7 linked regions of the Homo sapiens genome follow. The protein of the gene in region 4 purifies or fractionates together with the protein of the main gene of each other region. This does not show direct contact. Each region holds a gene or a part of one and is shown on either strand. Other genes may lie near its edges. The genes, in order: RIOK2, ESF1, CCDC97, LBH, MAP9, ADD2 and RBMXL1.

The links.
Region 1: the proteins of LBH (region 4) and RIOK2 purify together in Homo sapiens (affinity purification with mass spectrometry; one large-scale study listed by BioGRID and IntAct). This does not show direct contact.
Region 2: the proteins of LBH (region 4) and ESF1 purify together in Homo sapiens (affinity purification with mass spectrometry; one large-scale study listed by BioGRID and IntAct). This does not show direct contact.
Region 3: the proteins of LBH (region 4) and CCDC97 purify together in Homo sapiens (affinity purification with mass spectrometry; one large-scale study listed by BioGRID and IntAct). This does not show direct contact.
Region 5: the proteins of LBH (region 4) and MAP9 purify together in Homo sapiens (affinity purification with mass spectrometry; one large-scale study listed by BioGRID and IntAct). This does not show direct contact.
Region 6: the proteins of LBH (region 4) and ADD2 purify together in Homo sapiens (affinity purification with mass spectrometry; one large-scale study listed by BioGRID and IntAct). This does not show direct contact.
Region 7: the proteins of LBH (region 4) and RBMXL1 purify together in Homo sapiens (affinity purification with mass spectrometry; one large-scale study listed by BioGRID and IntAct). This does not show direct contact.

The regions. Positions count from the first base shown.
Region 1 is NC_000005.10:97,180,448-97,184,435, forward strand, and holds the start of RIOK2 (serine/threonine-protein kinase RIO2), read right to left. Parts: upstream 2,801-3,988; 5' UTR 2,745-2,800; coding exon 2,679-2,744; intron 1-2,678. UniProt on the Homo sapiens protein: Serine/threonine-protein kinase involved in the final steps of cytoplasmic maturation of the 40S ribosomal subunit. Involved in export of the 40S pre-ribosome particles (pre-40S) from the nucleus to the cytoplasm.
Region 2 is NC_000020.11:13,767,920-13,771,419, forward strand, and holds part of ESF1 (ESF1 homolog), read right to left. Parts: coding exon 3,412-3,500; intron 2,103-3,411; coding exon 1,988-2,102; intron 1-1,987. UniProt on the Homo sapiens protein: May constitute a novel regulatory system for basal transcription. Negatively regulates ABT1.
Region 3 is NC_000019.10:41,313,172-41,316,671, reverse strand, and holds part of CCDC97 (coiled-coil domain-containing protein 97), read right to left. Parts: intron 289-3,500; coding exon 1-288. UniProt on the Homo sapiens protein: May play a role pre-mRNA splicing through the association with the splicing factor SF3B complex which is involved in branch-site recognition.
Region 4 is NC_000002.12:30,230,189-30,234,333, forward strand, and holds the start of LBH (protein LBH), read left to right. Parts: upstream 1-1,345; 5' UTR 1,346-1,550; coding exon 1,551-1,576; intron 1,577-4,145. UniProt on the Homo sapiens protein: Transcriptional activator which may act in mitogen-activated protein kinase signaling pathway.
Region 5 is NC_000004.12:155,342,158-155,345,965, forward strand, and holds the end of MAP9 (microtubule-associated protein 9), read right to left. Parts: 3' UTR 501-3,808; downstream 1-500. UniProt on the Homo sapiens protein: Involved in organization of the bipolar mitotic spindle. Required for bipolar spindle assembly, mitosis progression and cytokinesis. May act by stabilizing interphase microtubules.
Region 6 is NC_000002.12:70,761,701-70,765,200, reverse strand, and holds part of ADD2 (beta-adducin), read left to right. Parts: intron 1-3,500. UniProt on the Homo sapiens protein: Membrane-cytoskeleton-associated protein that promotes the assembly of the spectrin-actin network. Binds to the erythrocyte membrane receptor SLC2A1/GLUT1 and may therefore provide a link between the spectrin cytoskeleton to the plasma membrane.
Region 7 is NC_000001.11:88,982,630-88,986,129, forward strand, and holds part of RBMXL1 (RNA binding motif protein, X-linked-like-1), read right to left. Parts: intron 1,438-3,500; 5' UTR 1,198-1,437; coding exon 25-1,197; 3' UTR 1-24.

The sequences.
Region 1 (3,988 bases), on a different chromosome or scaffold from region 4:
AGTACAGTAGCAGCTCAGATGGGATAGCATATAGAATTCATGCAAACGCGGCTGGAAGATACTTCTAGGATAGAGAAGGCATTAAAATGTAGACCAAATACTTTTATATTTTATCCTGATGAGAGCAGGAAGCTCTTGAAGATGTTTAGGCGTGGGAGACACACGAACAGGGTTATTTTAAGGACATTAATGTACCAGGAATATGCAAATTGGCTTAGAGATGGCAAAATCTGAGGGGGTACTCCGGAGAACTAAGACAGAAGTCCAGCTCAGAGGAAAGAGCCACCAGAACAGGGTAAGTGGTAGTGGTACTGGAAGGAAGGAATAAAAATCTTTAGGAAGTATTATGGGAGAGCTTGGCAATTAGATGTGGAAGGGTAAAGGGAACGGAAAGCCACAATTGGAAGTGATGAGGAAAAGCAAGTTTTAAGATTTTATTATTTTTTTTTTTTATAGAGCTTGGGAAAAGAGAAAGGGGGTAGAAAAAAATTGAATTTGGTTTGAGCACTGAGAGTCAAATAAAAATGTTTAAAGGAAAACTGGAGGCCAGGTGCAGTGGCTCACACCTGTAATCCCAGCACTTTGGGAGGCCAAGGTGGGTGGATCACGAGGTCAAGAGATCGAGACCATTCTGGCCAACATGGTGAAACCCCATCTCTACTAAAAATACAAAAATTAGCTGGGCGTGGTGGTGTGCGCCTATAGTCCCAGCTACTTGGGAGGCTGAGGCAGGAGAATCGCTTGAACCCAGAAGGTGAAGGTTGCAGTGAGCTGAGATTGTGCCACTGCACTCCAGCCTGGCAACAGAATAAGACTCCGTCTCAAAAAAAAAAAAAAAAGAAAGAGAGAAAATTAAATAGGAAAGGGGCCTATATTTAGGAATGAAGTTATAATTAGAAGGAAAAATTGTCAATTATTTTATAGAAGTGAGAGTTGAAGATGTGAAGTGGATGCTATCACTGAGCAGGAGATAATGGAAGAAAAGGAATGTTTGGGAGCAGAATTCTGGGGCAAGTTCATATTGAAAGCTAAGGGCAGCTAGTCAAACAATGATTATTGATATAGGAGGAGCCAAAGAAGTAAAAGGGAAGAGAGGCCCAAGAAAGGGTACCAACACTGGTGAGATTCAACTGAGACCGGAATGTCATATTTAATGACTAAGTCATTTCTTGGTGAACTTTACAAATAATTTAAATATTGCAGCGCCAATGTTTTGGAAGATAAATCTGGCATCATTTTGATGTCTCACCAAAACCTTAACTTTTAAATTTAACTTATTTTCCATGCTTTGTCTCTGCCTCCCCCGTCCTCTAACACTCTTACTTTTGACCCCTACTTCTGTCAGAGACACTAAGGAATGAGTGTGCTGAGAAAGCAGGAAAGGAAGGTATCTTTCCGAAGTGATAGTAGGTTTTCATAGAGAAAGTCCAGCTGATTAGAAGAATCTACATGAGAGGCAAAGTAAACATTGTCTTCCAAATTTCACACTGATTTTGCATTTGATAGTTTAATACTTAAGCGCTATTTAAGATTAATTTTAAAAATCCAAAACTTGAAGCCTTAACATAATGCAAGAACCAGTGTGACTCACATCGCATATCCTATTACATAATTACACAATATAGGTAGTCCTTATCATGGGGTTCACTCCTTACCAAAAGATAACGGCTCCTAAATAAATGTACAAATGTCTTGATCTATATATTAATTTCTGTGCCATAAGACTGAGGCCATAAAATCAGATTTTGTTACTCCCCTGATTAAAAACATTTAGTGGTTACCCCCACATTCTTTACCAAACCTCCAAGGCTCTGTAGTACATAATTTCTCACCTTTTCCGCTACATCTCCAACCATTAGTGTGCATCTCACTTTGCTCCAGCCACATTACATTGGCCTTTCCTCTCTTCAAAGACTTTTCTGTCTCAAGGCCTTTGCACTTACTACTGCTGTTTCCTCTGCCTCCAACTCTTTCCAAGGACTTCACTGGGCTGTCTCTTTCTCACACAGCTCCTATTATTCCCCCATTCATTCTTTCATTTAGTGAATATTTATTGATTGTCTACCAAAGGCCAATAACTTGTGCCCCTCCTCTCCACCAGATACATATACTTTCTATGCCATTATCCTTTATCATTTTCATAGCATTTATCCATTATCCTATTTTTCGTTTACTTGATGATCTGTGTCTCTCTCTCCACTTGTCTGTTTGAACAAGTGAACCTCCTAATGTTGCTACTAAAAAACCGACAAATATGTGTTGACTGAATGAATCAGAAAGACTGCTATGCGACTGAGTCTGTTAGTAGGGAAGTCAATATTATCAAATCTCGGGGGGGGGGGGGGGCTTAAACCTTTCACAGCTGGTCGGAAGCTCAGGATCAGAGAAGTTTCCAGGCCACAGAGATGCAAGCGTTTCTCTTCAGCGCAAAGCGAATAGCAGCAGAAAAGAAAACAATTATTAGAAGACGGGACCTTTGCTCTATCTGGGGGAAGGTAAGCTCCCAAACAAAACCTTTTTAAAAATCCGACTTTCTGAATGCTCTCTTCTCCATTCCCAGCTTCTGCCACGTCCCGGGTCCCAGAGTGTGCCTGCTCAGATCCCAGAAAACTTGCAGGAACAGGAAGAGGTCACACAGTGTTAAGGGGAAGGGAGAACAGGAACGGCGGGTTTCTTACCGCGGTCAAGACCCTGAAGTCATCTCGGCTCATGTAACGCAACTTGGCCACATTCACTTTCCCCATGGCGGCCCCAGTCCGAACCCAGATGCCTCTCCGACGACAGCCGCAAAGCGTAAGGCAGGTCGTTATTCCAGCCTCTAAGCGCTTTACAGCGCCAGATGGCTCGCGCACGCGCTGCGTCTTAGTATAGGTCCTTGTTAATAGTTAGAAGTGCTGTTCTCATTGATATAGGAAAATAAAACTACTTGTATGTCTTATGAAACACATAGTATGTAACAAGTGAACGTTTTATTTTTGTGTAATTTTTGCGTTGTGACTGAGTTGGCGGAGTGTAGATATTCTCTACAATGTGCCTTTTTTTTTCCATATCTGTCAGGACTTGCTGCCTCAATGACACGTTCCGCCTCAGAGAGCAAAGTGGTTACTTAATGGGAGGAGCAAATTTTTCCCGCAAACAACTTCTACTCTAGGCAAAGTGACTTCCAACAAGACAGGGGTAAAAGAACCTGAGCTAGAGTCCAGACAACCAAATCTGTTAAAGGTAAAGTGGACTGTAATCACACAAGCACGCCCTCTACTCCTAATTGCGCCTGCTCCGGCAGCTCCGGAGGGCGTGGTTAATGGAACTCATGCGCTTGCTCAGTACTTCTCTTAGGTTGGTCTAGGAGGCTTCGAAGTGCGCCTGCGCTGGTTGGGGTGGGAGTTTAAGGTGACACGTGGAGAGCGCGGCGGACGTCCTTACCTCCAGAGGAAGTGGGGATTTTGATAGTTCGGGCTGACCTACGCGGGTAGGACTTCGAGGGCCCAGGAGCGATTTAAGGATTTTAGAATAGTTACCCATACTGGCTCTGCAACTCCTCGATATTCAAGCCTTTGTCTGCTTTTTACTTGAATGCAGCATGTCTTTGATTAACCATCTTCAACCAATGAACATCTCCATTTAAACGGAATTTTTCTTTCTGTACTTACATAAGAAGGCATAGAAATGAATTTTTTTTTTATTTTTGAGACAGAGCCCGGCTCTGTCACCCAGACTGAAGTACAGGGGCGCGATCTTGGCTCACTGCAACCTCTGCCCTCTAGGTTCAAGGGATTCTTCTCCCTCAGCCTCCTAAGTAGCTGGGATTATAGGCTCACACCACCACGCCCTGCTAATATTTTTATTTTTAGTAGAGATGGGGTTTCGCCCTGTTGACCAGACTGGTTTCAAACTCCTGGCCTCAGGTGATCCGCCCCCCTCAGTCTCCCAAAGTGCTGGGATTACAGGCATAAGCCACCGCGCCTGGGCGAAAAGTTTTTAAAAAAAC
Region 2 (3,500 bases), on a different chromosome or scaffold from region 4:
GAAATGATCCCTATTCTGACAATTAAGCCTGAGCTGATAACCACCAAAACACTGTTGGAACTAGGACAGATGTTGATGATACAGCCAGGACCCAGGAACTTTAGACTGGCTGGCTGGACAGGCTGGCCCTGATCATTATGTTGGTTCTGAAAATAACATGACTTTAATTTCATGTGACTGAATTTTTTAGACTTTGCTTACTATGTAATGGTAGAGTTTTACTACACCCAGTAACTAATCAATGCCATACAGTGCCCACCACGGCATAGCAGGTGGCAGATACAGCTACTCTCTCTGCTACCAGTCCCTCCTCAGAGAAGCACGGTGATTTATCACACAGGAAAAGCAGAGGGAAGCTAGTGTGGCTACTGCAGAGTACAGCTGTGGACAGAAAGGTTATTGGGAGAAAGAAAAAGGAGAAGGGAGGCCAAGGCGGGTGGATCACCAGAGGTTGGGAGTTCGAGATCGGCCTGACTAACATGGTGAAACCCCGTCTGTACTAAATATACAAAATTAGCTGGGCATGGTGGCGTGCCCCTGTAATCCCAGCTACTCAGGAGGCTGAGGCAGGAGAATCACTTGAACCTGGGAGGCAGAGGTTGCAGTGAGCCAGGATTGCACCACCGTACTCCAGCCTAGGCGACAGAGTGAGACTCAGTCTCCAAAAAAAGCAAAAAAAAAGAAAAGGGAGAAGGGGCCAGGCGCAGTGGCTCACACCTATAATACCAGCACTTTGGGAGGCAGAGGGGGGCGGATCATCTGAGCTCAGGAGTTCAAGACCAGCCTGGCCAACATGGTGAAACCCAGTCTCTACTAAAAATACAAAAATTAGCTGGGTGTGGTGGCACACACCTGTAATCCCAGCTACCGGGGAGGCTGTGGCAGAAGAATCACTTGAACCCAGAAGGCAGAGGTTGCAGTGAGCAGAGATCGCGCCACTGCACTCCAGCCTGGGCGACAGAGCAAGACTCTAGTCTCAAAAAAAAAAAAAAAAGAAAGAAAGGAAAAGGGAGAAGGTAGTCACCTAAGTAATAAACTATTTCAATAGACAAAAACCTTTTGGCTATTTGTTACTAAGCATTAATGTGACATCTATTATACCTTAATTATTCCATATCAATTCTTTTTACAGTTTTGAATCATCTGCAGAAAAAGGTACTCCTATTTTAAATTTTCACTAGTTTTGTTTAACTGTGCTGGGAGGTAATTCATTATCCACTTCCCCTTATTCCCTAGGATATTAATAACTGATGTATTAGAGTGTATAGGAGATACTCTTATTTTAAATTTTCCCTAGTTTCATTTAACTGTGCGGGGAGGTAATTTATTATCCACTTCCCCTTATTCCTTAGGATATTAATAACTGATTTATTAGAGTGTATAGGAAAGACAGAAGAGTGTATAGGAGAGACAGAAGAGTGTACAGGAAAGACAGAAGAGAAAAAAGAAACATCAGCAGATAACTGACACAGGCTTAAATGCGTAACAAGAATCTGAAAACAGGTTCACAGATATGGTAGAGGCAGACACGCTTGTGTCTCATTTCTCTCTGTACCCATGCATTAAAAATTTTGAATACTTTGAGGCTGGGAGCAGTGGCTCACGAAACCTGTAATCCCAGCACTTTGGGAAGCCAAGGCGGCCTCACTTGAGGTCAGGAGTTCAAGACCAGCCTGGTCAACATAGCGAAACACTGTCCCTAGTAAAAATACAAAAATTAGCCAGGTGTAGTGGTACACACCTGTAATCCCAGCTACTTGGGCAGCTGAGGCACGAGAATCGCTTCAACCTGTGAGGCAGAGGTTACAGTGAACTGAGATCATACCACTGCACTCCAGCCTGGGTGAGAGAGCGAGACTCTGTCTCAAGAAAAAATAATAACAAAAAAATTAATACTTTCCATTTTTAAAGATGCTATAAGTAATATACAAAATCTCTTCATAAAGCAATAGAGTCCAGCTACATATTTTTTAAAGTAAAGAAATACCGTTGATGTTCCCATTGCAGCAGAAGTGAAATATTTTGGTTTATATGCTGTTAAATTCACTTCTGAGGCTACATCCTTAGGCTCATCATCAAAAGTAATATCATCTGGTATAAACCTAAGAAGTAAAGAAAAAAAATTTATTTAAAATACGCTGCAGTGATAACCACAGTTTAGATTCTCATCTAATTAGTTGTAGTTTATACATACACAAACTTTCTAAAAGACACACGTTTAAGAGACAATGTTAGACATAACCTTTGTATATTTCTGAATGAATTCATCTTTGTATAAATTTCTGAAATTCATAAGCTATAACTCTGTAATTCCACTAAATTTAAAAGAATGCTGTATAGATAGAAATCGTGCATTAGGAGTCAGTTAATGAGTCAGGTGCAAGCACATGTGGGTCCCTCACGTTTCAAAAAGATCCAGACTTCTGATAGTGCAGTCATTGACTACATGATTTTGTTGTTGTTTTTACAGAGAGGGTCTTGCTCCATCACCCAGGTTGGAGGTCCATGGCATAATCATGGCTCACTGAAGTCTCAACGGCCTGGGCTCAAGCGATCCTCTACAGGTGTGCGCCAACATGCCTGGCTAATTTTTACTTTTAAAATTTTTTGTAGAGACAGGGTCTCACTATGTTGCCCAGGCTGGTCTTGAACTCCTGGGTTCAAGCGATCTTCCTGCCTAGGCCTCCCAAAGTGCTGGGATTATAGGCGTGAGCTACTATGCCCAGCTGGCTATATTGTATTTTGAAGATCAAATATAATTATTAATGGGTAAGCATTGTGAATACAAAGTATCATATACATGAGGTGTCACTGAAAACAAGGGAAAGCTTAAGGTTGAGTCTTACAATTTCCTAATTGTACATTTAGCCATTTACATTTAGAGCAGTGTTGTCCAACAGAACTTTCTGTGACAAGGGCAATGTTCTATATCTGCTCTGTCCAAAATGGAACAATTATTTGAAATATGACTACGCAACTGACTTATAAATTTTAACTAAAATAACCAAATATGACTAGTGGCTACTATACTGGATAGCATGGATCTAGAGATAACAATCTGTTTTCAAATTCCTCTGCCCCTTCCTCCATGCATTTTTAAAAGTTAACTTCATCTGGTTCCTAGCTCTAAAAGCAGTTGCAAGGAAATATTATTGTGTAAGGTACACCATCTTAAAAACAGAGCCAATATGTCTGAAAGGACAAAGATGTGGGGATGATTCATACATAATACTTTAGCACTGTCTTGTTTGTTTTCTTTCTTAGGAGTGATGTTCCATGGGATAGAGTTAACCGAAAAGCAAAAAAATCATTTTAGAATATAAAACAGAGATCACTACCAGTTCAAATATTTTACTTCTTATAATCATGTTGTACTAAAAGATTAAATTGGTAATACATACACTGGATTACCTTAGATCTATGAAAGAACAACTACTTTCAAATTCCAGGCCATCACAATCCTCATAAATTTTACTAGCTGTTTCCGGAGAATCACAGTC
Region 3 (3,500 bases), on a different chromosome or scaffold from region 4:
GGAAGCGCTCCAGGAACACCAGTGGCTTCTCGTGGTACAGCTGGGCCAGGATGGCCACTTTCTCATGCTCTGTCAAGTCGGGTTCACCCTGCTGCTGGCTGCAAACAGGCAGGCGGCTGGCGGCTACAGCGTGCAGCATAGCACTCACTGCTGCATTTTCAGCCCCGGAGGTGTCACTGTCCAGGGCCACTGGTGTTGCCTCAGCTGCTTCCACTTTGTCCTGGGGTTTAGATGGGACTGGTGTCCGGCTCAGCTCACCCCAGTGCCCAGGTCCAGGCTCTATGCAGCCTGAGGAAAGGAGAGATTGGTTAGTTCAGAGATGGGAGTGTGGGAAGGGACTGGGGGCTTAGTCACTCACTCAGCTCACATTTACTGGGCACTGACTATATTCTGGGCACTGTTCTGGGCACTAGAGAAACCACAGTGAGCAAAAGTTGACATTTCAGTAGGGGACACAAACAATTAGCAACATAATTACCGAAAACATAATGTGTTAGGTGTTTCCTGGAGTTATGCGGAAAAATAAACAGGGAAGGAGGAGGGAAGAGGTGGAGGAGGCTGCAATTTTATTTTATTTTCGAGACAGGGTCTTGCTCGGTCACCCAGGCTGGAGTGCAGGGCGCAATCACAGCTCACTGCAGCCTTGACCGCCTGGGCTTGAGCGATCCTCCCATCTCAGCCTCCCGTGTAGCTAGGACCACAGGCATATACCACCATGCCTGTGTAATTTTTAAATTTTTTGTAGAGACAGGGTATTGACATGTTACTCAGGCTGGTCTCGAACTCCAGGGCTCCAGCAATCCTCCTGCCTTGGCCTCCCAAAGTGCTGGGCATTAAAGGTGTAAGCCACTGTGACTGGCCTATTTTTATTTTTATTTTTTAAGAGATAAGGCCTTGCTCCATTGCCAGGCTGGAGTGCAATGGCACAACCATGGTTCACTGTAACCCTGAACTCCTGGGCTCAAGCAATCCTCCCACCTCAGCCTCCTGAGCAGCCAGGACTACAGGCATGCACAACCATACTCAGTTAATCTTTAAATTTTTTTTTCTTTTTTTTTTTTGAGATGGAGTTTTGCTCTTGTTGCCCAGGCTGGAGTGCAATGGCGTGAGATCTGCCCACTGCAACTGCCGCCTCCTGGGTTCAAGTTATTGTGGTTGGTGCCTCAGCCTCCCAACTAGCTGGGATTACAGGTACAAGCCAAATGCCTGGTTAATTTTTGTATTTTTAGTAGAGACAGGGTTTCGCTATGTTGGCTAGGCTGGTCTCCAACTCCTGACCTCAGGTGATCCACTCCCCTTCGGCCTCCCAAAGTGCTGGGATTACAGGTGTGTGCCACTGCACCCTGCCAATCTTTTTTTTTTTTTTTTTTTTTTTGAGACGGAGTCTCGCTCTTTCGCCCAGGCTGGAGTGCAGTGGAGCAATCTTGATTCACTGCAACCTCCGCCTCAGGTTCAAGCAATTCTCTGCCTCAGCCTCCCGAGCAGCTGGGATTACAGGTACCTGCCACCATGCCCGGCTAATTTTTGTATTTTTAGTACAGACAGGGTTTCACCATCTTGGCTGTGCTGGTCTCGAACTCCTGACCTCGTGATCCACCCGCCTCGGCCTCCCAAAGTGCTGGGATTACAGGCGTGAGCCACTGCGCCTGGCCTGCACCCTGCCAATCTTTAAATTAAAAAAAAAAAAAAAAAGTTTCAGTAAAGACAAGGTCTCACTAGGTTGCCCAGGGTGGTCTCAATCTCTTGAGCTCAGGCAATCCTCCCACCTCGATCTTCCAAAGTGCTGGAATTACAGGCGTGCACCACTGGACCCGGCCTAATTTTAATTTTTTTTGGTAGAGACAGGGTCTTGCTGTGTTGCCCAGGCTGGTCTTGAACTCCTGGCCTCAAGTGATCCTCCTGCCTCAGGCTTCCAAAGTGCTGAGATTACAGTGTAAACCACCATGCCTGGCCAAGGCTGCAATTTTAAATGGAAGGCTCAGAGAAGGCTTTGCCAAAAAAGTGACATTTGATTAGAGACCTCAGGTGGTGAGGGATTAAGCCATGAGGTCTCTTGGAAAAGAGAATTCCAGGCAGAGGCAACAACTACTGCAAAGGCCCTGAGGCCTGACTTATTGATCCACTCAATTCTTTAAATCGTTAATACATTTGCTAATTTGTTTACTCATTCATTCACTCTCTCATGCATTCATGCGTTCACCCAACCACTCTTTAATAACTCTAAATCTTAGGCCGGGCGCGGTGGCTTGCGCCTGTAATCCCAGCACTTTGGGAGGCTGTGGCAGGTGGATCACCTGAGGTCGGGATTTCAAGACCAGCCTGACCAACTGGGAGAAACCCCGTCTCTACTAAAAATACAAAATCAGCCATTGTGGCACATGCCTGTAATCCCAGCTACTCGGGAGGCTGAGGCAGGAGAATAGCTTGAACCTGGGAGGCAGAGGTTGCGGTGAGCCAAGATCGTGCCATTGCACTCCAGTCTGGGCAACAAGAGCAAAACTCTAAAAAAAAAAAAAGAAAAAAAAACACTAAATCTCTGAGAGGCCCTAAGTCAGGCAATGCTGAGGATCCATAGGATGAATCCAGTCCAGCTCCTGCCCTCAGGGAGCACCCAGTCTGATGTGGGAGACAGTCAGGATCAACAATAATATGGGCAAAGAAAACAGGAAAGCTGGCTGGGCACCATGGCTCATGCCTGTAATCCAGCACTTTGGGAGGCCGAGGTGGGCAGATCACTTGAGGCCACAAATTCAAGACCAGCCTGGCCAACATGGTGAAACCCTCTCTCTATTAAAAATACAAAAATCAGCTGGGCATGGTGGTGGGCACCTGTAATCCCTGCTACTCAGGAAGCAGAGGCACAAGAATCGCTTGAACCCATGAGGCAGAGGTTGCAGTGAGCCGAGATCAGCCATTGCACTCCAGCCTGGGTGACAGAGTGAAGACTCTGTCTCAAAAAAATGGAAAGAAAACAGGAAAGCGGAGCGCTGGGCAAACCTTGGTGAGACTTGTTTCCCAAGAGTGGAGGGAGCAAGCCTGCGGCAAGCAGGAAATACGTGAAAACAGAATATAGAGACAACTTTAAGCAGCGTGGCTGGGTTGGGGAGGAAAGAAGTCACAGGTGACATACATGTGTTGTGTGTATCAGGGAGGATTTAAATCACTGATGCAGCTGAAGACTGAGCTGGACAAGGGCAGGGGCTGTGGAGGAAGGAACAGGATCATGAGTGAGCGAATCAGAAAGATGTCAGGAGGCTGAGTGGAGGAGCCACAGGGCTGACGTGCTGGAAGTAAGGGAGGCATCCAGGGGAATGGTCCGACTGCTGCTACACGGGCCTCCAGACTCCTCAGGAGAGAAATGTTGGGCTGGAGACAGAGCTGTGGGTGTCATCAGAATCAAGACAAGAACCAAAGCCAAGAGAAATGAGAGGTAGGGACTGGGGAGGGCACAGGGGAGTGGGAGAGGGATGACAAGAGGGTCCAGGAAAAAGCACTGCACA
Region 4 (4,145 bases):
TATTTTTAAATAAATTATTCTCATCAATTCTTATAATTTTTGTTTGGGCTGGTTTTGCGGGGACTGATGAAAATTATGAGGGTCTTCTCTCACGGCTTCCTTCAGGGTCCTACCCCTGTCGAACCTTCGCCATTAATTCTGTCATCCTTTTGCCTGAGATAAGCTATGCGTTTCCACTTTCAAGTACATATATACGGATTCAATACACTCACTGCCTTTCTTTTAAAAAGCTGATTCACTTCAAAGCCAATTTAATTTTGCTTAGTTTTTGATCTCCCCGCGCCCCCTTTCCTCAGCCCCTATACACAGGTAGGTGAGGGTTCTAAAGCCATTTTACAGGCGTGATTGAAGCGGAGGCCACAGAGCGGCAGCGCTGGGTCCCGAGTGAGACTCCCATCATGTGGCTCTGGGGGGCTGCGCAGCTTTGACTGCCTGGACAGACGCCCAGAGCTGCAATTCCTGGGCAGTGTGGGAGGCGTTCGGCTAAAGCTCTTTGTTTCTGCTGTCATGAGCGACTCCTCGGAGAAGACGTGGGAGTCAAGGATGGGGGGCGGCGTGCACACCGCCCGCCCACACCTTCTGCCCCCGCTGCAGACCGGGCGTATGTGTGTCTCCAATGGAAAAATCCTACCCAGGACGACACCACATCCTTGCTCCCACAAATAAAACCTTCCACGGAACTCAGGGCTGCAGACCAGCCCTTCGCAAGCCAACGCGCCCCGTGGGCACTCGGTCCCCCGGCTCCGCGTCTCTGCCACCTTCCCACCGCTTCTTCTTTAACCATGCTCTTGTTTCCCCTCGCTGATCGCAAGGCTGCGGGCGAGGATTCCAGAGAGAGGCCTAGTATGGGGAACAAACGCTTCAGAGGGGTCCGAGGTGGGCTGGGGACAGCCAGTGGATGGGAAGGAGGGCGCTGGCGCCGGGCGGCTGGGGTGGAGGAGTGGCGGGTGCCCTACCCCGGCGCAGAGCAGCCGCCGAGCTGTCATGTCCCGAGCGGCCCCCGCGCCCTCCTTGCGCCCACCTCCGCCGCGCTGGAGTTCGGGGTGTGCGTGGAGGGGGCTGTGAGCGGGAAGCGGCGCGGACGCGGAGTCCGGGCCGGTGCGAGTGAGCGCGTGTGCGCGTGGGAGAGCGGCGGGAGGGGGCCGGGCTCGCAGCCGCAGCGAACCACGGCCCCGGGAGCAGAGCCGAGCGCGCCCCCGAGCCGCCGCCCGCCGGAGCTGCGAGCGCTGAAGCCATTCATGATTTTGGTGACGTTATTCCAGGAGTGGGCGAGGGAGGGCGGGGCCTCTCGGGGCCAAGCCCCGCCCCCGCCCCTATAAATACGGCTTCCCGGGCTCTTTGTGGGGCTGAGTGCTCAGTGGAGAGCGGGGAGTTGTGTCCACCTTGCCGACGTCGCTAGCCGTGGGGCTGTCCTGGGAAGGCGGACGGCGAGCGCCCGGTGTCCGCACTCGGCCGCCTGCCGTGCCCGTCTGCGCCCGTGTCATCCTCACTCGGGACGCAGGGACCGTTTTTAAATCACAGGGGCGTGTGTCAGCCTGCCCTAGGACTTCATGTCTATATATTTCCCCATTCACTGGTGAGTACCCTGCGCCTGCGGCGGGCGTCTGTCTCGCGGCGGTGGCTGCGGGCCCGGGCGCCTGCTTCGTGCCGGCTCCGGGTGCGAGGGCAGCCGGCGGCGCGGGCGCTCAGCGCTAACCCGCCGCCCGAGCCCGTGCAGGAGTCAACGTCAAGGTTGCAAAGGTGGGGGTGGGGGGAGGGGGTGCTGAGAACATCCAGACAAAGGACGTGAACTCGGAGCCCTCACCTAAGTGACGGCCGGAGGGTTTGTATTGGTTGGCGGGGGAGCCAGGGGTCACGTGTGAATCCCCCCCAATGAAACCACCCTATGCGGAGAGCTGCAGGAGGCGCGCGCCCCACTTGGCGCAGGGGGGCTCCTGCTCTTCCCGGGCCCCTCCTCTTTTTCTTTTTGTTTGCATGCAAGTCTCAACGTCGAGGCCGGCAGCAGCGGGGCTGAGCTGGTGCGGCCGCAGGGTTTGCAGAGCTCCGGGGGGGTGGGGGGCGGGAAACGCTCTCCCCACACGTAACCCCACTAAAGCCACAAGCAGCAGGGCACGCGCTGCAGCCTCTCAACCCCTGCCCTCTCCACCGCCCCTAAAAACCGACGCACATTGGTGGGGGCCGGGACTGGGAGGAGCCGCCTTCGCCGTGCTGAAGGGGAAGGAGCCCGGGCCGGGCGCGGGGCGTCGGAGGTTTGCCCCGGACTGGGGATCGGAGCCGGGAGGGATGCAGAGAGAGGCAGGCCCCTGACTGCTGGGACTTCCTTGCTGGCAGTTTCTTCCTTCCTGCTCTGGGTTAGAGGAGAAGCGGCCGGGGGCGAGCGCCGGCAGCCCCGGAGCGCGCTCTCAGGTGCGGACGTGGGGAGCTCGGCCCCGAGTCTCCGGCAGGCGCTGAGCGAAGGGAAAACCGGCGCAAGCCGCGGCGGGGTCCGGCCTGGCCCAAGAAGCGGAAAGTTCATGCTTCTCGCTTCAACTTTTCGGGCCGGCGCCACAGCCCCGAGCGAGGAAGAGCCGCCCCTACGTCAGACTCTTCACCCTGCGTGCGCTCTTCTGGCTCCTTTCTTTGGAGGTCGCCAGCAGCCTTTCCAAGACCCGGGAGGAAACTGCCTTTGCAGGGCCCAGCTCCCGAACCTAAACTTGCCGCAAAGCCCCGCATCTTCTGTTAGTCTCCCTGCCCCCATCCGTCCCAGCCTGGCAGTGTTTAGAGAGGGGACTGAACTTCCCTCTCTCAACAGTTCAAGTTCCCCCACCCCGAGGCTTGTGTACCCTTCTTGTGGGTGCCCCTCCCTTGCCTCTCCCGTGGTGTGTGAGCAGCTAGGTGCCTTATTATAGGTGAAGCTTTGAAGGCTGTTGGAGGCTTTGTGCCTTTGGCTGCTCAAAATTTGCCAAGGTGGGTGTTTGGACCCATTAAGAATATTATGAGAAATTAAGGTTTAAGTTTATTTCATCGATTAGCACTTTGCAGCTTGCAATGCTTTTATGCAGACATTAGCCCTTAACCTAACTGTGAGGTATGCACTATTAGCATCAGAGTAACAGACAAACAGGACACTTGTGGCTCAGAGAAGTTACAGGACCTGTTCAAGATCACACAGTTCTTGAGGGGCAGAGCCTAGAACCTATTGCTTCTGTTTCTAAATCCAGTGTCATTTCTTATCTATGTAGTAACCATACAATTGAAGAGGCATCTGGTACCCCTGTTTCCTTAGATACTGTCCCTCAAAAGACTCCCCCATATTTTTGTTTTAAACCATGTGCACAGGCACGATGGTGGAAAGCATTGGGTGCTGTGTAGCAGGTACCTGTATTTGGTGCTTATGTTCAGCATTATGTGCACGGGATCCTGTATGTGCCCAGAGTTTGTGCAAGGATAAGGGAATATTCGTATCCTGCTTAGAGAGTACAAGGCACTTTCACATGTCAGCCATTGGTGGGCCAGCTTGGCCCCTCTGGAAATTTCCTTTGCAGTCAGAGTCGGGTATCCTTAAGGCTTTTAATCCAGGGGATGTTTTTCAAGCTGTGAGCATGCAGCTGCTGTGTCTGGGGCTAGAGAAAGGGGATGGATGGCAGATGTGAAACTTGCAGAAAAGCTGACCCCTTGGGGCTTTAAGTGGAACATTTTGCCAAAAGGAGCACCAGAGAGACAAATTTAGGAAAGCTGTATGATTGGACTTTGTTTCCCTCCAGTTGACCTGTTATTGTTATTGTGTATTAATAATATATAGAGTTCCCCTTTGGAAAGTTCATGTGAGGATTATTTTTATTCTTAGTTGGAGAAGTGAAGGGAGATGTGGTTGAATTGGTTTTAATATAGACAGATGGACTCAGCTACCTACTGTTTTGGTTTCTCTGGTTCTGTCATTTAAAGAAACATTCAGGGTCCCTCTGTGCCAGTGGGGACTAGAGTACAGGAGAGGAGGGAAGAGGTTTGCCAGAGAGGTCTGCAGACAATGGGCTTTGTCTGTTGCGGCTGAGCCCTGGGGCTGTGGGCTTGCAAGGCGCTTCCTCAGGGTGTGAGCTTGTTTTGCTGCAAGTTCTGTTTTGAACACCTCTCTTCCTGTCTCCAGACAGTCCCCTGATCCCACAGCA
Region 5 (3,808 bases), on a different chromosome or scaffold from region 4:
AAGAACCCTAAAGCTTATGTCAAAAATAAAGTGGGTTCAAGAACAAAATCTGAAATGAAGAGTTACTAGGAGATTTACTTGAACTGTTACTTTCTTACTCAGTATTCAGTCCAGGTTTAAGTCCTTCAGCATCTGACATTCTCCTGGCAACTGTAATTGAATCAATGATGACTCATCTGAGATGAGCAAGTTGGTCCAGTCAGACCAAACAAAAGACATTCTATAATCAGGGGAGAAGTCTTCTCTATATCTCTCTTATATGAGCAAGTAAGTAAGCATTATTATTATTGCTTTGTGGTTTCGAAACTGTGGGCAAATATATGTAAAATTTACCATCTTAACCATTTTTAAGTGTAGGGTTCAGTAGTGTTACATACATTCTCACTGACGTGCAAGTGCTCTCCAGAACTCTCTTCATCCTGCAAAAACTGAAATTCTATACCCATTAAACAACTCACCTTCTATGTCTTATAGTTCTGGAAACATAAAAAGGCATCTAGTTTTATTTATAACATTTCCTTTATTTATCAACAGCAACGATATGACATTACAAAGTGACCCGTGACATCTTTTTTAATCTTGCACACGCACTGCAGCAAGGTTAATCCTGTATGTGAAAACCTCTGAGTGACTATCTCAAAGTGTATATGTCATATAACCTGCTGAGTTTTCTGATATTGTAATACTAGATACAAGATGTCTGAATAACTCCTTACATTTATAAATTCTTATTTAATTTTATAGCTTTAATGCGGTCCATCATTTCTAATAATGATATTGGCTACAAGAATAATGATCATATTATTTATCATATAATTTACCATTTGTAAAGCAACAAATTGCCCATTAACAATGAAATTGTAGTTACAGCATCTAAAATTATTAGAAAATTATATTAGCATGGAAATATGTTCATGATATATCACTGAGTGAAAAAAATCTGGCTACCAAATATGTAGTCTGACTCATTCTTATTTCAAATAATAAAAAATATGTGTATGTTTGAAAATATGCACATTAGTATTTGTATTTTATATATATTATGTACATCATTATATATATATGCATACATATTTGTATATACACACAGATAGCACAGGAGAGAGACAGAGTGGGAGAGAGAAAGAGGAGGGAGGAACTATCTCTTCCTTTTTTCTCAGCTTAATTTCAGCTACAGGAGAAAGTACACTAGAAACTAATTAACAGGAAGAGTACAAAATAATATGTTAGTTATAACTATCTTCAGGAGATGAGAACTGGGAACATGGGTGACTTTTGCTTATTTGCATTTTCTAATTATTTAATAATTATATAATTATATTATCTCTCTCTGTAATTTGTGTAGTAAAACATCAGTTTTATATCCAAATTTTTAGTCATTTATAATAAAAGGTATATTAGCATATGATTATTTTATCCTTAGCCCACAAATAAAACTCACACCACATTTCCTAACACTATGGGCATTTTGGAACACAGTCAATAGTGTCACCCAATAAAATAAATCTTGAATGGTTGATTTTAATACACTAAACATTACATGAAAATATATGCTATCAAAAAGCAGACATTAATATCTTCTTAATAATTTTTAAAACATCCTAAATTTAATACCAAGAATTTTGCCTACCCGAGTTAACATTATACAATTACATGTAATATACATATTCAAAATGGCATAATCACATGAAATTTTAAAGTAAAAATAACTCAGAGAAACTTCCAGTTTAACATTTACACAGCATTTTATTATCCTATTAGCCAGTGTAAATGCAAACTAGGAAAGTTGATATCTTTCTTTTATGTAAAAGGAAGCATATGGGTTTAAATACCTTTTTATATAGCACTATCAAAATCGGAGTCAAGATTAAATTAGGGAAATCTAAGTTTCTTTTACTAGTTTATTCTTGGGAATGATTATAACTAACACGTAATTTCCCCTACTTTGTGAAATTCCTTTTCTTTATTGTATCTTAGTCCATGACACAGGATTTAAGAAACTTCATTATTTCCCCTCACTTTAAAGTGTAGGTACCCAAATAGCTTTGATCTGGTGGACAGTTATGAAGGCAGCAGTGGAGGAGTAAGGAGATAAATAAGAGGACATGAATCAACTAAATTAATAATAACCACAGTTCAAAAGTTAGTGTGAAAGTTTTATCAATATCGAAATTGTGGAATGGTGAGCAGAATACAACTGGGACCCCTGATACTGAGATCTAACTCTAGATGTACCATAGTTAGTTGTATGAGATTGGACAAGTCAAAGTACTTGACAATCAGTTTCTTCAACTTAGAAATAAAACAGTTTAGGCCAGGTTTATTAAAGTATTAAAACCCCTTTCAGAGGCATAGTTCTATAACTCTAAGGAACATAAGACTGTGGATACCTATCTACTGTCAGGTACTGCTTTGGCAGCAGTGAAAATATCAGTTTCAATATAACTTTAAACAATAAATGGACTAACACTTTTGAAGTATGAAGCAAATACAAACCACTGGAATATTTTTATCCCATAAATCGTTACTTTCTTTCATTAAGAAAACTTTAACCTCTTGATCTAAAATGCCATATTGCATCTTTTAAGTTAAATAGCATTACCACTTTCTTCATTATTATGAAATTTAAATTCTGTATACTACTTTATTATTTAGTATTAATATTTAAATTTATCCACAAATGTGCTTTCTAAGGAAACTTGTTTTAAGTAATGTTTTAAAATATTCATAAAATTTGTTTTCTTTACTTTGAGATCTCTGCATTCTTTAAGTGATCAACGCAATTTATAAAACCGGAACTTTTATATGAAAGTCTATATACTTTTAATGTCCTTAATTTGAATTAAACATTCCCTTATAATACAAATTAATGTAAACCTAATGAGTAAATATCTATATTGACATGACATACTTCCTAAGGAAATATGGGAAAATCATACCTTTTAAATAGGTAAATGTATATTCAAGAGAATATTACCAAGCTTGATTCTCTCCCTTGGATCTTAGGAAGTAAACAACAGTACTGTATTTTCACCCACCTCCCCGAACTCAGCTTTATTTGTGCTAGAAGAGGTGATTTTATTCAACTAGTTAATTTCAGTGCAGGTTGCTGTAAACAGGAAATAATATGTTATTTATCATAGTAAGACAAAAAAAATTTGAAGTGAATGACTTGTTGGGTCTATGCAAACACCTCATCCTACCTCAGAAGCAATCCTAAGAAATTAATACTTACTTAGCTTTCTTTTTAGGAAGGCCCTAATACAAGGCATCTTTCTGTTTTTTTGTTTTGTTTTGTTTTGTTTTGTTTTTTTGAGTGTTACAGCCTGGACTGGCCAGCAAGACAGAAATTTCTTCTTCCTAAAAATGTGTAATGTCAAATAACCATTATCAACCCTATCTATGTTAATGTTCGCACACTCATGAATGGGGAAATGTAGGGCTCATGGTAATAAATCAATAATGACAACAATGAACATTTAAGTCCTTATTATGTGTCAAATAGTTTACATTAATTAACTCGGTTCTCACAACAACCTAAGAAGTAATAATGGTTAGCCACTAAATATGATAATGTAGAAGAAAATAATGGAAAGTAAATAAATAATGTGAAATCTATAAGATACACATCCATGATCTCACATCCCCAAAAGTAGCTGTACCTTTTTCAGTTTTTTTCCTTTTACTTCCCTGGAATTTGTAAATATCTTTTCAGCTCTAAACAGCTAATACAATAAACACTTTTAATCTATTTTGGCAGGCACTGTTTTTGGTACTATGGGGGACACAGGAATGAGTAAGAGAGGTC
Region 6 (3,500 bases), about 41 Mb from region 4:
TTGCATTTTTAGTAGAGACGGGGTTTCGCCATGTTGGCCAGGCTGGTCTCAAATCCTTGGCCTCAAGCGATCCACCTGCCTCTGCCTACCAGAGTGCTGGGATTACAAGTGTGAGCCACTTTGCCCAACCAACAGTTCTTGATTCCGAGACCAGAAAGGAACTTTTTCCTAATGTGACATAGTGTTTGAAATGATGCCTTCGATCACCTCCTCATCAGACACAAGGACAAGTTTCATAGGGTTGTTTTTCACAATGGCCCTCAGCATGAGCTAATGATATCATGCCACAGGTCTCTCAGCCCCCTGGGGTTCTGAAGATATACGTATTTTGAAAGATCTGTGTATTCTCTGACATTAGTGGTTTTATTCCAGTGATAATCTTTTTTGCGGAATCTTGCTCTGTCACCCAGACTGTTTGAGTAGGGATCTTGCTCTGTTACCCAGGCTGGAATGCAGTGGCATGATCATAGTTCCCTGTAGCCGGGACCTCCTGGGCTCAAGCGATCCTCCCACCTCTCCCTCCTGAGTAGCTGTGACTACAGGCATGAGCCACTATGCCTGGCCTATTCCAGTGATAATCATAAATAATTAGCAGTAAAAATGTGTTCTGGATCATCTTGATGGCAAGGCTGAAACTGATGCTGGAGTCTGCGTTTGCCTTTGTATCTTTCCATTTGAGCCATGGGCAGGCCTGGTGGCTCCAGCCACAGCCTGGGTGAAGGGAAGGGGAGTTGGAATAGTGGAGAGAGTGAGTCTACACAGGACACACACAACTTGCCAACTCCAAAAGAACAGCTCCTGGCGACCACTGCTCTATTGGCAGGGATTGAAGATCTCACGCCAGTTCATCTTTGTATGGATCAAGTTTGCAGCAATTTATTAGCAGCAGATGTAGTAAAAACACAACAGAAAAGTTGCTGTTGTGGATTTTAACAATATTTGAATTAGATCTTCATTTAATGCATATTTAGTAACTCTCCAATAGGTACCTTACATCTAAGAAAATGAGATGGGGCCGGGCGCGGTGGCTCACGCCTGTAATTCCAGCACTTTGGGAGGCCGAGGCAGGTGGATCACCTGAGGTCAGGAGTTCGAGACCAGCATGACCAACATAGTGAAACCCCATCTCTACTAAAAATACAAAAATTAGCTGAGCATGGTGGTGGGCAACTGTAATCTCAGCTACTCGGGAGGCTGAGGCAGGAGAATCACTTGAATCCTGGAGGCAGAGGTTGCAGTGAGCCGAGATCACACCACTGCACTCCAGCCTGGGCAACAGAGCGAGACTCCAACTCAAAAAAAAAAAGAAAAGAAAATGAGATGGGTAATTTGTTCTGATGGTTAAGTGACACCAGACTGTCTGACTTCAAAAATTATTTTTCTACTTACTAGCTGTGAGAGTTTAGGCAAGTTATTCAACCTCTCTCCTGCTCAATTTCCTATAATAATATAGGAATAAATATATGGCATTGATTGCATGGTGATATTATAAGAATGAGTTGTTACATGTGAAAGACTTACCTATTGCAATAAATTAATTTTATTACTTTGATATTTTAAAGTGGATAGTTGTATTTGTACATTGTTTTGGCATTTTAATAATATAAAAGCTGTAAAGCATAGGTGTTTAGAACTGGTATTTATGAGTATACATATTTAAGTTACATTTTAATAAAAGTGACTTAGGTCAACCATGAGGTCATGAGAAATTTTTTCTGCCAAAAGGGATGTTTATATAGTTTAAGCATTTTGAACTATGTACAGGGACACACACAGATTCTTGGAATAGAAATTTGAATCTTTAGAAGAGATTGCAGCCACAATATTTGACTCCACATACATTGGCTGCTACAATTTTAGCCTGAAAGAATTTTAAAGCAATAATATGAAAAACTGCCTGTCTTCAATGACAACCACCACCAAATCTTCCAAACTCGAAGAGCACTCATGGAATGGCAGGCTTTTAGTAAAGATTTCATCCCGGTCTGTCTTCCAAGATAAACTACATAGGAAAGCTTTGCCAATGTTACTGAAAGAGATGAAGAGAAAGTGTATCCTCTGTGGAGTCTAAACTTCAGTTGTATAGATTTAAATGAGTTTATTGATTATGTTATTCAAATTTATTTTAAACTTTTCTTTGTACCTAAGTGATCTGTCAAAGAATACAAAAGATGTTAGTCTCAAATGATATTTTTGGCTGGGTGTGGTGGCTCACGCCTGTAATCCCAGCACTTTGGGAGGCCGAGGCAGGTGGATCACCTGAGGTCAGGAGTTCCAGACCAGCCTGGCCAACATGGTGAAACCTCGTCTCTACTAAAAATACAAAAATTAGCTGGGTGTGGTGGTGGGCGCCTCTAATCCCAGCTATTCCAGAGGCTGTGGCAGGAGAATTGCTTGAACCCGGGAGGCGGAGGTTGCAGTGAGCCGAGATCACACCATTGCACTCCAGCCTGGGCAACAAGAATGAAACTCCATCTCCAAAAAAAAAAAAAAGAAAATGAAATTTTTGACCGCTTTCCTTTTGCTATGTCCTTTAGCATGCCCTTTAAATCCATATAATATAGTTATATTTATATATTTATTTGATATATAATTATGTAATTATATATATAAACATGTATTTGTGTATATTTTATATGTTTTTACATAGTTATATTTGATGCTGTATTACTCAGGGCCCTGATTGCCCAGGACTGATGGGTTTTCTGGGATGAGGGATTTTCAGTGCTAAAGCTGGGACAGTGCCAGGCAAATGGGGATGACTGGTTATCCTCTGTGACACAAATGTTGTGACCCTTGACTCTCCATTGTGGGGTGAATCTTCCATATTTCCAGACCTGCTTTGTCTCATTGTATTTTTATTTTTGTCTTAAATTTTACTGTGTGATAAGAAATCTGGTCCTGCCTTCTTTCTGTTTCCATTTCCCTGGTGTGATGCTCATTCTCTTTCTTCTTAAGCTTTCTTCTTTTACGTCATTTTGATTTTTGTCTATTTTAAGCATCATAATTGGATTTTTAATCCAATTGTGACTCAATTTACATTTATTATATGTGATACAGTCACAGATCTTCTAAAATTTTATTTTACATTAAAAAAATTCCAAGCTATTTTTCCACCCCCTTTCTTAACTTAAATGTAGTGTAAGAGTCCCTTGTTCTTTAGATAAAAGGGAAATTTTCTGCCCATTTTTTTCTACTAGTCTTCATTAACATTAAAAAATATAGTTGTGTTGGCCAGGCGCGGTGGCTCACGCCTGTAATCCCAGCACTTCAGGAGGCCAGGGCGGGTAGATCGTGAGGTCAGGAGATCGGCCATCCTGGCTAATATGGTGAAACCCCGTCTGTACTAAAAATACAAAAAATTAGCCAGGCGTGGTGGCGGGCACCTGTAGTCCCAGCTACTCGGGAGGCTGAGGCAGGAGAATGGCATGAACCCGGGAGGCAGAGCTTGCAGTGAGCCGAGATTGCACCACTGCACTCCAGCCTGAGCAACAGAACGA
Region 7 (3,500 bases), on a different chromosome or scaffold from region 4:
TTTGGTCCAAAGTTTTGTTTGTTTCTAGTATCTGCTTCTGCCTCCCCCTCTATCAGATCGGCTTCCTCCAGGGCCAGCACCTCTTGGTGCTCCGCGGCTTGAACTGCTGTAGGAATCACGTGAAGAAGGGTACCCCCTTTCTACAGAAGGGGGAAGCCCTCTTTCTTGTCTGCCAACCCTGTCACAACTTGAGTAGAGATCACTTCGGCTGCTTGAGTAACTGTCTCGACTTCCACCATATCCATCACGTGAGCTGCTATAATCATCATAGCGACTGCTTCCACCATAAGATGGCGGGGGCCCTCGTGTAAGTGGAGCACTACGTGAGTTACCATAACTCTCATATGAATCTCTGTAGGAACCTCCACTTGGATGATCTGAATAGTCACGATCACGACCATATCCATCTCTATCGCCATAGCCTCTTGATGGATAGTCATCACGTGAACTGGAATGACCATAATCACGGTAAGTATAATCTCGTGGTGGTGGTGCATAATCTCTTGTATCACGAGAACTTGGGTAATCTCTGCTTGAATAGCTGTCTTTAGTAGAATACCCATCATCTCTTGGGGACAAATAAACATCTCTACGAGAGGGGAGCGGTTCCCTTCGAGGTGGACCTCCATAACTATCTCTTCCACGTGATAGAGGAGCTCTTCCTCCCATTCCACTGCTGCTGCGAACTAGTCCTGAAGGTGCAGATCTCTTAGGAGAAGGACCCCCACTTCTTGGTGGTGGTCCTCTTTTTACTGGGAGTGGTCCCCTGGAAGAACTCATGTTAAAATTCATGGAATATCCACCATCATCCATGTGTCCTCCTCGTGAAGGAGGTCCCCTGGTTCCTCCACTTCCTCCTCTTCCAGCTCCAAAACCTCTTGGAGGACCTCTACTTCTTGGAGGTGGGGGCGGTCCATGTCTACCTCTTTCAAATGATGGTTTGGTGGCTTGTTCCACCTTGATGGCTTTTCCATCTAATGACTTTCCATTCATGTCTCTGGCTGCATCCTTAGCGTCTGCTGGGCTTTCAAAGGTGACAAAAGCAAATCCTCTTGATTTGTTGGTTTCACGGTCTTTTATCAAGAGTACTTCCACTATTCGTCCATATTTGCCAAATACTGTTTCAAGAGCTTTCTCATTTGTTTCCGTATTAAGCCCACCAATGAAGAGCTTTCCTGGGCGATCTGCTTCAACCATTTTTTTTTTTGCCGGTGAGTCGGAGGGGTGACAGTGGGTTCAAGCTCCAACAAGCTCGCCGACAGGGGCTTCCTAGCAGCTCAGCACCAGTGGCGGCTGTCAGTTAGGAGGACTGAACCGCGAAGCCGCTAGCACTACTGCGCAATCTGGATGCTTTTTAAGGTATGGCTATCCATTCAAAAAACCAGGAAAATTACTTTCTTTTGCCACTAGATGGCAGAGGAAAACAACAGAATGTTCCTGTAATGGTGGAAGAAATGAAAGTAAAACTCAGAAGTGGAAATGTAAAGCAGGGAAAGATGCTTAAAGATACATAAAAAATGCAATTATATTAAGCTCAAAAGTGTGTATAATTAACAGGAGCCCTTTTTTTGTTGCTTTTTTTTTTTTTTTTTTTTTTTTTTGTAGACAGGAGTCTCACAGTGTTGCCCAGGCTGGAGTGCAGCGGCGCAATCTTGGCTCACTGCAACCTCTGCCTCCCAGGCTCAAGCCATTCTTGTGCCTCAGCCACCTGAGTAGCTTGGATTACCGGCATGCGCCACCACACCTGGCTAATTTTTGTATTTTAGTAGAGCAGGGTTTCACCATGTTGGCCATGCTGGTATGGAACTCCTAGCCCAAGTGATCCGCCTGCCTCGGCCTCCCAGTGTTGGGATTATAAGGGTGAGCTACCACGGCTGGCCTTAACTGGAACTTTGAAACAACATATAGTTTGTTACTTTATTTTATAAAGAATTATTTGTGCCTGATACGCTGTAGCTATTTAACATCTGTTGACTGAACAGATCTGCTGAGTGAAAGGGAAGCAATTTGGACTCCCTCTGAGAGATAATGTATTTGGGGAAAAAATTGTACTTCAATAGAAAACTATGCACTGGCCACAGCACAGCTTTAGGGCTGATATTTGCAGGGCTAGAATTTGCCTTTGAGTTATTCTGGGCTTTTGTAAATTGAAGCTAAGTGACAGGCATGCAAATTCTGGTTCTAGCATTTTGATTATCTTCCCTCCACCCTGTAGAAAAAACAGTTTTGCCTTCATTTGCAATCCAATTCCTTTACTACATATGAATTTGTGCTTTTTGACTTTCCATATGTACTGGTTATAACTTCTGTCTGGTTACTTCATATCACATGAGTGAAATAAAAATCTTTAGCACATGTTCATTTTTATATTTGTATGAGTCATGATTTAACCTTTTTCTGAAAATTATATTTTAACAATTACTTCAGAGAAACAAGCTTATTGGAAACAAGGCTTTCTCTAAATCTGAAAGCTGATAACAGCTAAATACATGGCTGGAATGCCAGAAATGGAGTCAGGCCAAGTGGAGAACAAAAAGCCTGGTTTATTCTCTCAAAAAAAATTGGGTTCAAGCCAAGACCTTGGAAGAGTGAGTAAGTGAAGGGAGTGCGTGAGTATTGTCCTCACCCATATCAATAGGCCTGGGGCCCTTCTGCCTGCCTACACTGTGTAATCTCAGCTCCCCCAATCACAGCTATAAATCAGAGTTGGACAGTCAGGCTGAACCAATCAAGACAACTAGAAGTTTGGGTTTGAGGCTGAGAAACAGGCTGTTTCTTCTGGGCACATGAAACAGAAGATTGGTAAGTTTGAATCTGGGCAAGTCTGTGTTCAATCCCTCACACACATGCCATGTTCTGTGCCAAAAACACACCTACGTTCCAAGTATATTGTTCAAGGTTGTTTAATGCAAAGAGCTTTCAAGCCAGATAGATCTTAGTTCAAAATTAAACATCAAAACTCCTAGTGTGTGAAGTAGGCAGGTTACCTGACATCTCTGAAATTCAGTTTCCTTATTTGCTAAGCAGGAAAATGAATACCTGCCCCATGTAAGTGCTATGGCAATTAAATGAGGCAAAGCCATAAGCAGAAAAATATAGTTCATGGCATACAATATATATACTCCAAAACTAGTGCCCACTCAGAAAGTAGGAAAGATTCTCTTAGATACAAGTAAGGATGAGTAACTTTGCACTAAAGGAGGCAAAGAGATATTGGGTATGGACTAAATGTACAAAAGGTGATACTTTCACATCAAAAGAGAGGGTTGGGCTGGACGCAGTGACTCATGCCTGTAATCTCAGCACTTTGGGAGGCTGAGGAGGGTGGATCACTTGAGCCCAGTAGTTTGAGACCAGCCTGGCCAACATGGCAAAACCCCGTCTCTACAAAAAATACAAATATTGGCCGGGAGTGGTGGCGGGCACCTATAGTCCCAGCTACTCAGGAGGCTGAGGCAGGAGAATTGCTTGAACCCGAGAGGCGGAGGCTGCAGTGAGCC